Homo sapiens: one gene and its partner. The protein of the gene in region 2 interacts with the protein of the main gene of each other region in a pairwise test. Each region holds a gene or a part of one and is shown on either strand. Other genes may lie near its edges. The genes, in order: ELF5 and NRIP2.

Region 1 (4,421 bases), on a different chromosome or scaffold from region 2:
TGTATAGTTTATCTCTGGTACTCACATTTCTGGTGGGGAGATGATTAAGAAAAAATGACCTAAAAAGTGTCCTTAGGAGAAGTGATAAAAAAAAGGTGGAGAAGCGCTGTGATAGATCCACCTAGTGTCAGCGCCAGTACAGACAGGGATCTGCTGGGAGGTCTCTTGGCCTGCTGTTCTGGACATACTTTTCATTTTGTGAGGGACTAGCTGGCTCATCATGGAAGGAGCCCTGGGCCTGGAGTTATGATTCTGCCTCTTGCCCCTCTCCAAATCTCAGTTCTTCAACTACTAAACAAGAACACAGATAAAACAGCCCCCAAGGTCTGCCCTAACTCTGTGACTTTCTGCAGACACCCACCTGATTGAGCCAACACATCCAAACCTGGGCACTCACACACATATGCATACACATTGATTATATTTGCATTTTTTTGGTCAAGCAAGTCCACCAAATTGGAGGAAAATCCAACCACTACACACAGACTGAACTTTTAGTGCTGAAAAAGCTCCCTGATTTCCTCTTCTCCCTTTTCTCCTGTGCCCACTGCCTTCTACCCCAGTTGGAGGTAGATACCTCAGGACAACTGGATATTCTTTGCCCAGCCTAGCTGGGTACCTTAAACACTCTGGACCCTCACTCACTGCCCACCGATAGATCCGTGGAAGCTGGAATCAGTTTCCCCCAAATGTAGTCATCATTCTAGCTGCCTAGTAAGTAGGAAAAGCTCAAGAATGATTAACACAAGGTGGTGGAATCAGGTGGGCTCACTTCACACATGAGAAAGTTGGCTGCAGGTACCTGTGGGAGTGAGGCAGAGATGGCATGGAAGCTGAGGTCCCCAGATGCCTCCAGTGGCTTCTGAACCCTTCTCAGAGCTGGCTCACACACCAAATGCACACAGAGAGGGTCCACCGAGTTGGAGGGACAGGCCTGTGGGCTTCTCAGTGTCACACAAATCAGAGGCAGCAATAACAGGTGTGGCTCCCATGGCCTGAGCAACCCGGCACCCCTGCTCAGCCTCCCAGAGAGAGGGGAAGGAGCAAACCACTCAGCCTTGGCCAGTTTGCCAGAGGAGGAAAATTCCTTCCTGACTCTGGTGGTGATCATCAACTTCACTCTGGGCATGTGACCAAAAATTGGCCCAATTAAGCATCTACACATTGGCTGTTTACGGGCCAAATCATCACTGGGCAGAACTAGGCCATAGGGTGCAAAATATAGAAAAAAGTGGCCAAGATTGGGCTTCCTCAACCCCACCCTCTGAGTGGTATCATTGGGAAGAAAATCGGTTTTCCTTCCTTAAAGCCTCAGTGATACCCAAATGTCCACTCCGTCCCAAGACTTGTGAGCAAGGGAGGGTCAATTTCCCAGCCCTTGGACCTCCCTAAGAAGGGGCCCACTGAGGAGAACCCAGTGGAGTATTTCAACACTTACTGCTAAAGAAAGATTGAGGGTTGGGTGCTTGAGGGTTTGTTCTTCTGAGAGGAACCCTAGCAACTGTGAGAACCAATTTGCTGACCTCTTGTCAAGTGATTCCTCATTTTTCTTTAGCTCGCTTAGGGAGTTTGCGTGTTTGTTTGTTTGTAGCTGTTTTTCTGAAGGTGCAGCGAAGATCCAAAAAGGTATGCCATGTAGTTTGCTGTAGGCTTCGATGCAAAGCTTACCAGTTTTGGATTACATATATCAGGGGTTAAATCCTACCTCTGCTGCTGCGAACGTGGGGCACATTTCTTACTACCCAGACTGCTGAAATTCTTAAGCTTTTTTTCATATAGATGTGGTATATAAATATTCATGCCCCTCTTCGAACTACGGTTTCCTCATCTCTAAAATGGGGATTTTTTTTTTTTTAAATCATGCAATCCGATATATGCAAAGGACGGGGCATAATACATATATTCAATCCTGTTTTAGAGGGAAAAATCAGCCATCAACAATGTATCTAAAAATTTGCCACTCTGGTGACTTCTGAAAAAGGGAGATGACCAAACTGAAAACTCCGGCCCGAGAATACCTTAGATTATGAAAAACAGTATTGCAGAGAACACGAAGACAACAGAATCAAGCGTTCACTCGGATGGGCAAACCACCCCTTTCCCTGGGTCTCTGGACTAGACTGAACCACAGAGCTGCCTCCCTAAGTCATCTAGCCTTTCTGGCCTCAGTTTCCTCATCTGTAACATGAAGCGATTGCACCTAGTGATGTCTGACACACTTTCGGGCGTACAAAAGGCATCCACACGCAGGCCCGGCTTCAGCCTGAGGAGGGAGCTTGTGCTACCTGTCGCTGTCAGCAGGGGGCAACCCCACAGAAACCCCACACACTGCAGAGTCTGACAAGGCCTGAGAACACAGTGGAAAAACGCTAACCATTGCTTTTCTGGAAGCATTCTCTTCTGGGGAGATGTCAGAGGGCAAATGGGTTTCTTTTAAAACTGTTTTGTACAAATTCCTGAAAATGCCCCAAACTATAATAAGGGAGTTCTCTGTATCGAGGGGGTGGGGGACAGTGGGCAGGCCGGTGGGGAAAGGAATTCAGTCAGGGGAGAAGGGTAGGTGGGGGGCTTTCCTTGAAGCTGAATATTTTTCTGAGTAAAATCCAGCTTCCCTTCCTAAAGAAGCTTTAGGGAGGATAGAGAACTGAGCGCCTGGGCGCGTTCTCTTAATTCCCCTTGGTTCAGCTAAGGGATCCAGAGGGAGTGGTGGCTGTGAGGAGGGCTGGTGGCCACACGGCCTGCGGAGGCAAGCAGGTCTCTCTGAGGCAAGCCGTCACATCCGTGTCAAACAGCTCCCGGAGGCCCTGGGACTGCACCCAGCGCAGGTGCCGGCCCTGGAGCTGGAGATGGACGAGCAGACCCAGGCCCCAGGCCGAGCCTCTGAGCCCTGACACCCCTTACGATTCATCCAAAAAAGCAAAGAAAAGGCGCTTACGTGAGGGCAGCGGTGGCTAGGTCCAAAGAGGAGGCTTTCAAGGCAAGAGAAGGCAGGCGCTCCCAGCACCAGCGTGCAGTGGAAATAAAGACACCTGTAGCCTTGTGATATAAGTGACACCTACAGACAGGTCCGTTTGGTTTTTCAGGTTTACGCACAGCCCCTTTGATGACGGTGACATACAGTGTGACACGGCTCCTTGGAGGGGGGGAAATGGTTCTCATATGCAGAAAGTTTACCTTTATCCTGCTTTTGTGCGCAGCTCACCCCTGCCCTGCAACCCCCCACTCCCAGCCCAGGGGACTCAGTAAACAAGCAGAAAATTCTTGTCCCTGGGAGCTGTGCGGGGATCGTGCGTTTGGTGAGGAATTTTCCTCTGTGCAAGCTGGAGGGGAAACACAGAGATTCCACCCTGGTGCCGGTCTGCGCTGCCTCTCTCCCAGGCTGGCTGAGCCCAGTGCTTTTGTAAGATCATGTCTTTCTCCGTTTTTCCCATGTGGTGAGAAGGAAGAGCATTATAGGCCCAGTGTTAAGACCTCAGGTTTTGCAGCTAGTTGCCTTTAGATTCAAATTCAGTGTCCATCATTTCCTAGCTGTGCTACCTAGAAAAATGTAGCTAACATCTCTGGGCTTCATGAGTGTAATGTAAGTGATGGGGCCTCTCCTCATGTGGATGCCAGCTCTCAGGTGTCTCGCTGAGAACTGCCCGCTTTTTAGTACTTCTTCGTGACAACAGAAACTCTGCCTAATTTAGGCTGCAAAGCACAGTGTCCCAGGTCATCTATGAGACAGGTATTTATAACCCTGTGCCTTTTTGCATTCTGCTTCTAGCCATCTTGGGCAGCCGAGATGTTGTATTCAAATGGCAGACTCCAAGCTTTAAAGCGAAAGCAAGGACTGGTTTGTTATGTTTTCTTGGGATCACCGGGCATGGTTACAAACACACAAATACAAATACGCATATAGTCTGCAGAAACAAAAGGCAGTTCGTGAGAGGATTCGGGGTGTCATCATGGAAAAATTGTTGAAGGAAGATAGGTGACTGCCTAGACCCCTATCTTGGCTGGGTAACCTGGACTTCTCTGGGCTTCATTTTTCCCCAGTGGCAAAAGGAGGAAGTGGGATTGAAATAGTGATTTTTTTCAAACTGTGACTTGAGGAACCCCAGGGGCTCCCTGGAGCCCTTACAAGGACTTTTGCGGGTGAGAGGATGGGAGTGGAGTAGAGTGGGTTAGGCTCTAGACCACCCCGTTCCTTCCTGACTCAATAAGAGCATCTCAGCTTTTATATAAATCTTCCGGGTAAGATTTCATTTGAACAAAAGAATCTGCCCTTAGAAAGGGTTTGCAAGTAACTGGATTACATGGTCTTTGGGCCTCTTTCAAGCTTTAAAATTCTGTACTTCTCTTCCTCTTTGGTTTCTAGGGGACTGTGCACTGTGATAGTCCCACACACTGTGTTTTCCATTGTTGGGCACTGGCCTATC
Region 2 (4,561 bases):
CTGGAAGCTAAAAACCTTGCTACTCCAAAATGTGGTCCTCAGATCAGCAACTTTAACATCATTTCGAAGCCTCTTAAAAATGCACTCTCATACCTACCGAATCAGATGTTTCATTGTGACAAGATCCCCAGGTGATTCATGTGCAGGTTAAAGTTTGAGAAGCACCAAAGTAAAACATGAAACTAACCATGTCTTCTCTTATTTAAAATGCATCAAAGACCCCCCACCCTACCCCGCATTGCTTTCATGATAGAGCTCAAGCTTTTGAAGGTGATCCACAGTCCACATGACCGGGCCGTGCCTCCTTCCCTGCCACTCTGTTTATGGGCCCCAGAAGCACCGCTCATACCAGGCCGCTTTTTGCCTCCATGTCTTCACTCCTCTCTCCTCTCTCCTCTCTTCCTGAAACTCCTCTTCCTCACTCTTCTCGAGGCTAGACTGGATGACTGGCTTAACACACTTTATTTGAGAGAGAGGTTGTATCTTAAGTTTGAGATTCTGTGTACATCCTATAATGCAGGATGTACCCTCTCCAGGATACCCTCTCTGAGTTCTTCATGCTCCTCTCTCCATACACGCCAAGCTGGGGTCCCTTGTCTTAGCTCCCTTTTCCATGCTTCTCACAAATGTTATGTATGGATTTTACTCCCCCATTAGCCTGGAGAGCGCTTGAGTCTACCTCACTCATTTTTATATCCCAGGGCATGGCTCAGCATCTAGTAGGCACTCAATAAATGCTTGCTGCAGACTGACTCTTCCCCCAGGCTCTATGCACCTCTCCACCTGCCCTCTCTCCTTGGGATCCTGGGATTGTTTTTCTACCCTTAGATTAATGAGGCCCTTGGGGTTGCTCCTGGCAGCAAGGCTGCCAGCAGTAGACCCAGTGCTGGGAAAAGTTCAGCGAGCTCTGGGATTGGCTGGAGAGACTGGCTCTGCACTTCCCATCTTCCACCTTCCCACGATGAACACAGGCTTCAGGCCCCTCCCGCTGTTGTGCAGTTTGCTCCTCAGCCATCCCAGGGAGGGAGACGATGGGGTCTTCCCTGCCTGTTGTGCCTTTGCTCCCAGAGCCATAGGAGGTAACTGCTAGGGATCAATTGGGGATATCCTAGGCAGAGGGGAGAGGTGAAAAGCCCGGGACTTTCTCATTAGAAGGCGGGACCTGCCACTCCGGGATGGCAATGTCAGTAGAGCACCTTCTCCTGGGGCCAAACACATGTAGGATGGTCCCCAGTAGGTTCCAGCCATTGAGAGCCGAAGAACCCGCTTCCCTGCTCCATCCCTGTTTTTCAGCTATGCTTGCTGCCACTGCAAGTAGGAATAAGCCCCTGGCAGTTCCCTGAATTAAGTCTCAGTGCAATCCCTTTTCTCGTTGGGAGCTAGGGAATTGCCAGACCTCTGGGCTGTGGTCCTGGTGGGGGCAACCCAGGCTGAGAGGAGTCTGGAAAGGTGGAGCTAAGTAGGGAAAGGCGAGGTGCTGCACTGGCCTTCAGGTTCCCGGGGAGAAGCAGTTGGTGGAGCACAGGCCTGCAGACATGCTTCCAACCTGTCAGTACAGGCCTGGTTGAGTACCTCTTCTCAGACTAGGAGAGGGGACAGGGAACCGAGTGCTCCCAAGCCTTTCTACAAAGGATTTCCTCTCTTCCACGGGTCAGAGGCCAGGAATATTTCTCAGACTAAATGGAGTAATAGCTGGGGGAATAATAATAATAGCATTTAGATAGTGCCTGCTATTAGGCACTGTTCTAAGTGCTTTAAATATATTAGCTCTAACAACTCTCCCAACAATCCTATGATTGATTTGATTCTCATTTAACAGATGAAGAAACTGAGGCACAGAGACGTAAAGTCAATTGCACAAGTTAGTAAATGGCAGAGCCAGGATCTGATCCCAAGCGAAGTGGCTGCGCAGCCCCGCTTGTCAGCATTGCCTCTCAGAGGGGAATGCCTGAATCTGCAGTTTTCCGCCGCCCACTCACATCCTCACTGTTACTCCCCTGCCCCATTCCTCTGAGGCCAAAGCTGCTGCAGACATGGGATGGGAGGAGAGGAGCCTGGAAGGTCCATTCCACTCAGGAGTTGGGGGAGCAGCACTCAAGGCGGCCAGGGGCCCCCGGCAAGAGCCACACAAAACCCTGATGCCCTGGGAAGGATGGAGACCCCCGATGTTTTGATTCTGAGGAGAAAGGACAAGTGGATAGACAGACCTGGTCTGGGGAACCTGTGGTTCGGGGGAAGCAGGAAGTCACAACCCTAAACTGGCCAGTCCTCCAGGCCCTCCTGGTTGTAAGTGACCACTCTAGAGGGTTCCTGTGTTCCTGTAAGCCCCCACTTCTAAACAGCCTAGCTCCTCACCACCCTCAAGTTTGGGGCCATTAGAGGAAAAAGGGAAGCCAAGCAATGAGAGAATAGGAACCCTCAGAGCCACCAAACCATGGGAACATCCCCGGTGAAGAGCCTTGAGTTGGCAGGATGACCTCTCCCCATCTCAGCAAGGGAGCGGGACCTGAAAGCTGAGGGTCTGCACTTTCTGGTCCTGCCTCCTGCTCAGGATCTGGGAAGTGGAAGGAAAAGGCCAGGGGACGCTGGCAGGGGAGGGGTGATGCCTCACCAAGTCCTTGGAGGTGCCGAGCCTCTTGAGGCTGTCCAGCGGGAGCAGGTCGGCCGAGTCCTTGTGCAGGAACTGGGTGGCCTGTTTGAGCCGGCGCTGCTGGCTCAGGTGGGCTCGGTCTCGAAGCTGTGCCTCCTGCCCCCTCGTCCTGGCTTCTCCCTCATCTCTCCTGGCCTCCTGCTTGGTGCTCATGGCCCCTGCTGGAGGAGTGGGCCAGGGGCTGCTCGGTGGGGGCGTCACCGAGTCCTCTCTGCTTCTTCCTGCCTGTCTCTGTCCCGTGCTGCAGCTCTCTTTCCAACAGGAGGGTCTCCACGGGAGGGAAAGAGGAAAAATAAATAACATGCAGGAGCAGCCGCGTCAGTCTCCAATTTCCCGAGATTGCTGTAGAGGGAGTGAGACTCCGGCTGGAAAAACCCAGTCCTAGAAGAGAGGGAGGGTTGGCAGGGCCCACAGCTGGCTGACTTGGCCGCATCCCCAACGCTGGGGTCCTGGTCAGAGCGGGCGGTGGATGGGGCGTATGTGTGTGTGTGTGTGTGTGTGTGTGTGTGTGAGAGAGAGAGAGAGAAGGAGAGTGAGAGACAGTGCTGTAAACTGTCAGGGTGCCCGTGCCAGGTGGTTTGCGAGGAAGCGCTTGTCACTGTGTGGGGGCAGCAGCCTTAGTGCACCTCCCAGCGTGTGTGGCCCCCGCCCTCCTCTGCATCCCTCCCAGGCTTCCCAGGACTGCCCAGCTGTTTTCTCCTGGCATTATCTGCAGCCCAGGGCTGGCGCGCAGGCCAGTAACTGGGTTCAGATCAAAGAGGGGCAGCATGAGAGCGTCCTTCCCTCCTCTCATCCCCCTAGCCTTACCTTGTTAGGTCTCTTGCCTCCCGCCTAGCAGATGTCAGAGTCTTTAACTAATTGACTCTGGATTCTGGGTTCCAGGGAATGACAGGAACAACTCTGAATCTTCCCACGAGTAGAAATTGTCCCTGGCATCTCAGTCTCCTTTATATGACTCTCCTCAAGTCCTGGCTCTTTAAAAAATGTTGCATTTCAAATATACAGAAGTTATAAAGAATAAGATAACCAGTACTCTTCACTCATCACCAGTTTAAAAAATAAGCTGTTGAAGCTCCCTGTGCACTTCCACTTCCGCCTGCTGAAATTGGTGTTTATCAGGCCCAGACTTCTTTATATTCTTTATGCAAATACTTACATATGCATTCTAAGCAATATGTCGTTGGTTTTGTCCTACTCACTGTATTTATTCTTCTGCAATCTGCTCTTTTTTGCTGAATAGTTTTTGTTAGTGAGATTCATCCATACGGTATGCCCAGCTCTAGTTAATTGACTTCACCTGCTGTGTAACATAGTATTCCATTAGATGCATGCATGACATTGAGGAAATGTAGGTTATTTTTCATTTTTAGGTCTAACAAACAATGCTGCTATGAATATTTTTGCACACATCTCCTGGGGCACCTATGTAGGCATTTCTCTAGAGTATACACCTACACCTAGGAGTGGAATTGCTGGGGCATCCCATATACAGCTTTGCCTTTTTGGCATATTGCCAGAGTGTTTTTACCAGTGCACACTGAGACAGCTGCACACAGGGGCTCCTGAGGTTCCACATCCTCTCCAGGACTTGGTATCAGACTTTTTCTAGCCCTGGCTTATCAGCAGATTTTTCTCTCCAGCCTTTCCTCTTCACCATCAGGGAAACGCATTGGCCAAGCACCTGTTTACCTGTGTTGGATGCTCACAGGGTGATTACCCCACCTGAGCCCTGCTCCCTAAGGGTGCAGTCTGACTCAGACAGCTCCAAGGCACATGTACTTTCAGACAAACCAGATGTCTGCTGAGCTTCTAGGAACCAAGCCTCTTTGAGACACTTTCACAACCACTGCAATTATATGAAGAAATACTGTATTCTAATCCCCATTTAGAGGGAAAGAAAGTGTTATGGGT

The links.
Region 1: the proteins of NRIP2 (region 2) and ELF5 interact in a two-hybrid assay, tested with the Homo sapiens proteins (one large-scale study listed by BioGRID and IntAct).

The regions. Positions count from the first base shown.
Region 1 is NC_000011.10:34,510,742-34,515,162, forward strand, and holds the start of ELF5 (ETS-related transcription factor Elf-5), read right to left. Parts: upstream 3,054-4,421; 5' UTR 2,936-3,053; intron 984-2,935; exon of another isoform or gene 829-983; coding exon of another isoform or gene 803-828; intron 1-802. UniProt on the Homo sapiens protein: Transcriptionally activator that may play a role in regulating the later stages of keratinocytes terminal differentiation. Isoform 2 binds to DNA sequences containing the consensus nucleotide core sequence GGA[AT].
Region 2 is NC_000012.12:2,832,031-2,836,591, forward strand, and holds the start of NRIP2 (nuclear receptor-interacting protein 2), read right to left. Parts: upstream 3,006-4,561; 5' UTR 2,954-3,005; coding exon 2,612-2,953; intron 187-2,611; exon of another isoform or gene 1-186. UniProt on the Homo sapiens protein: Down-regulates transcriptional activation by nuclear receptors such as NR1F2.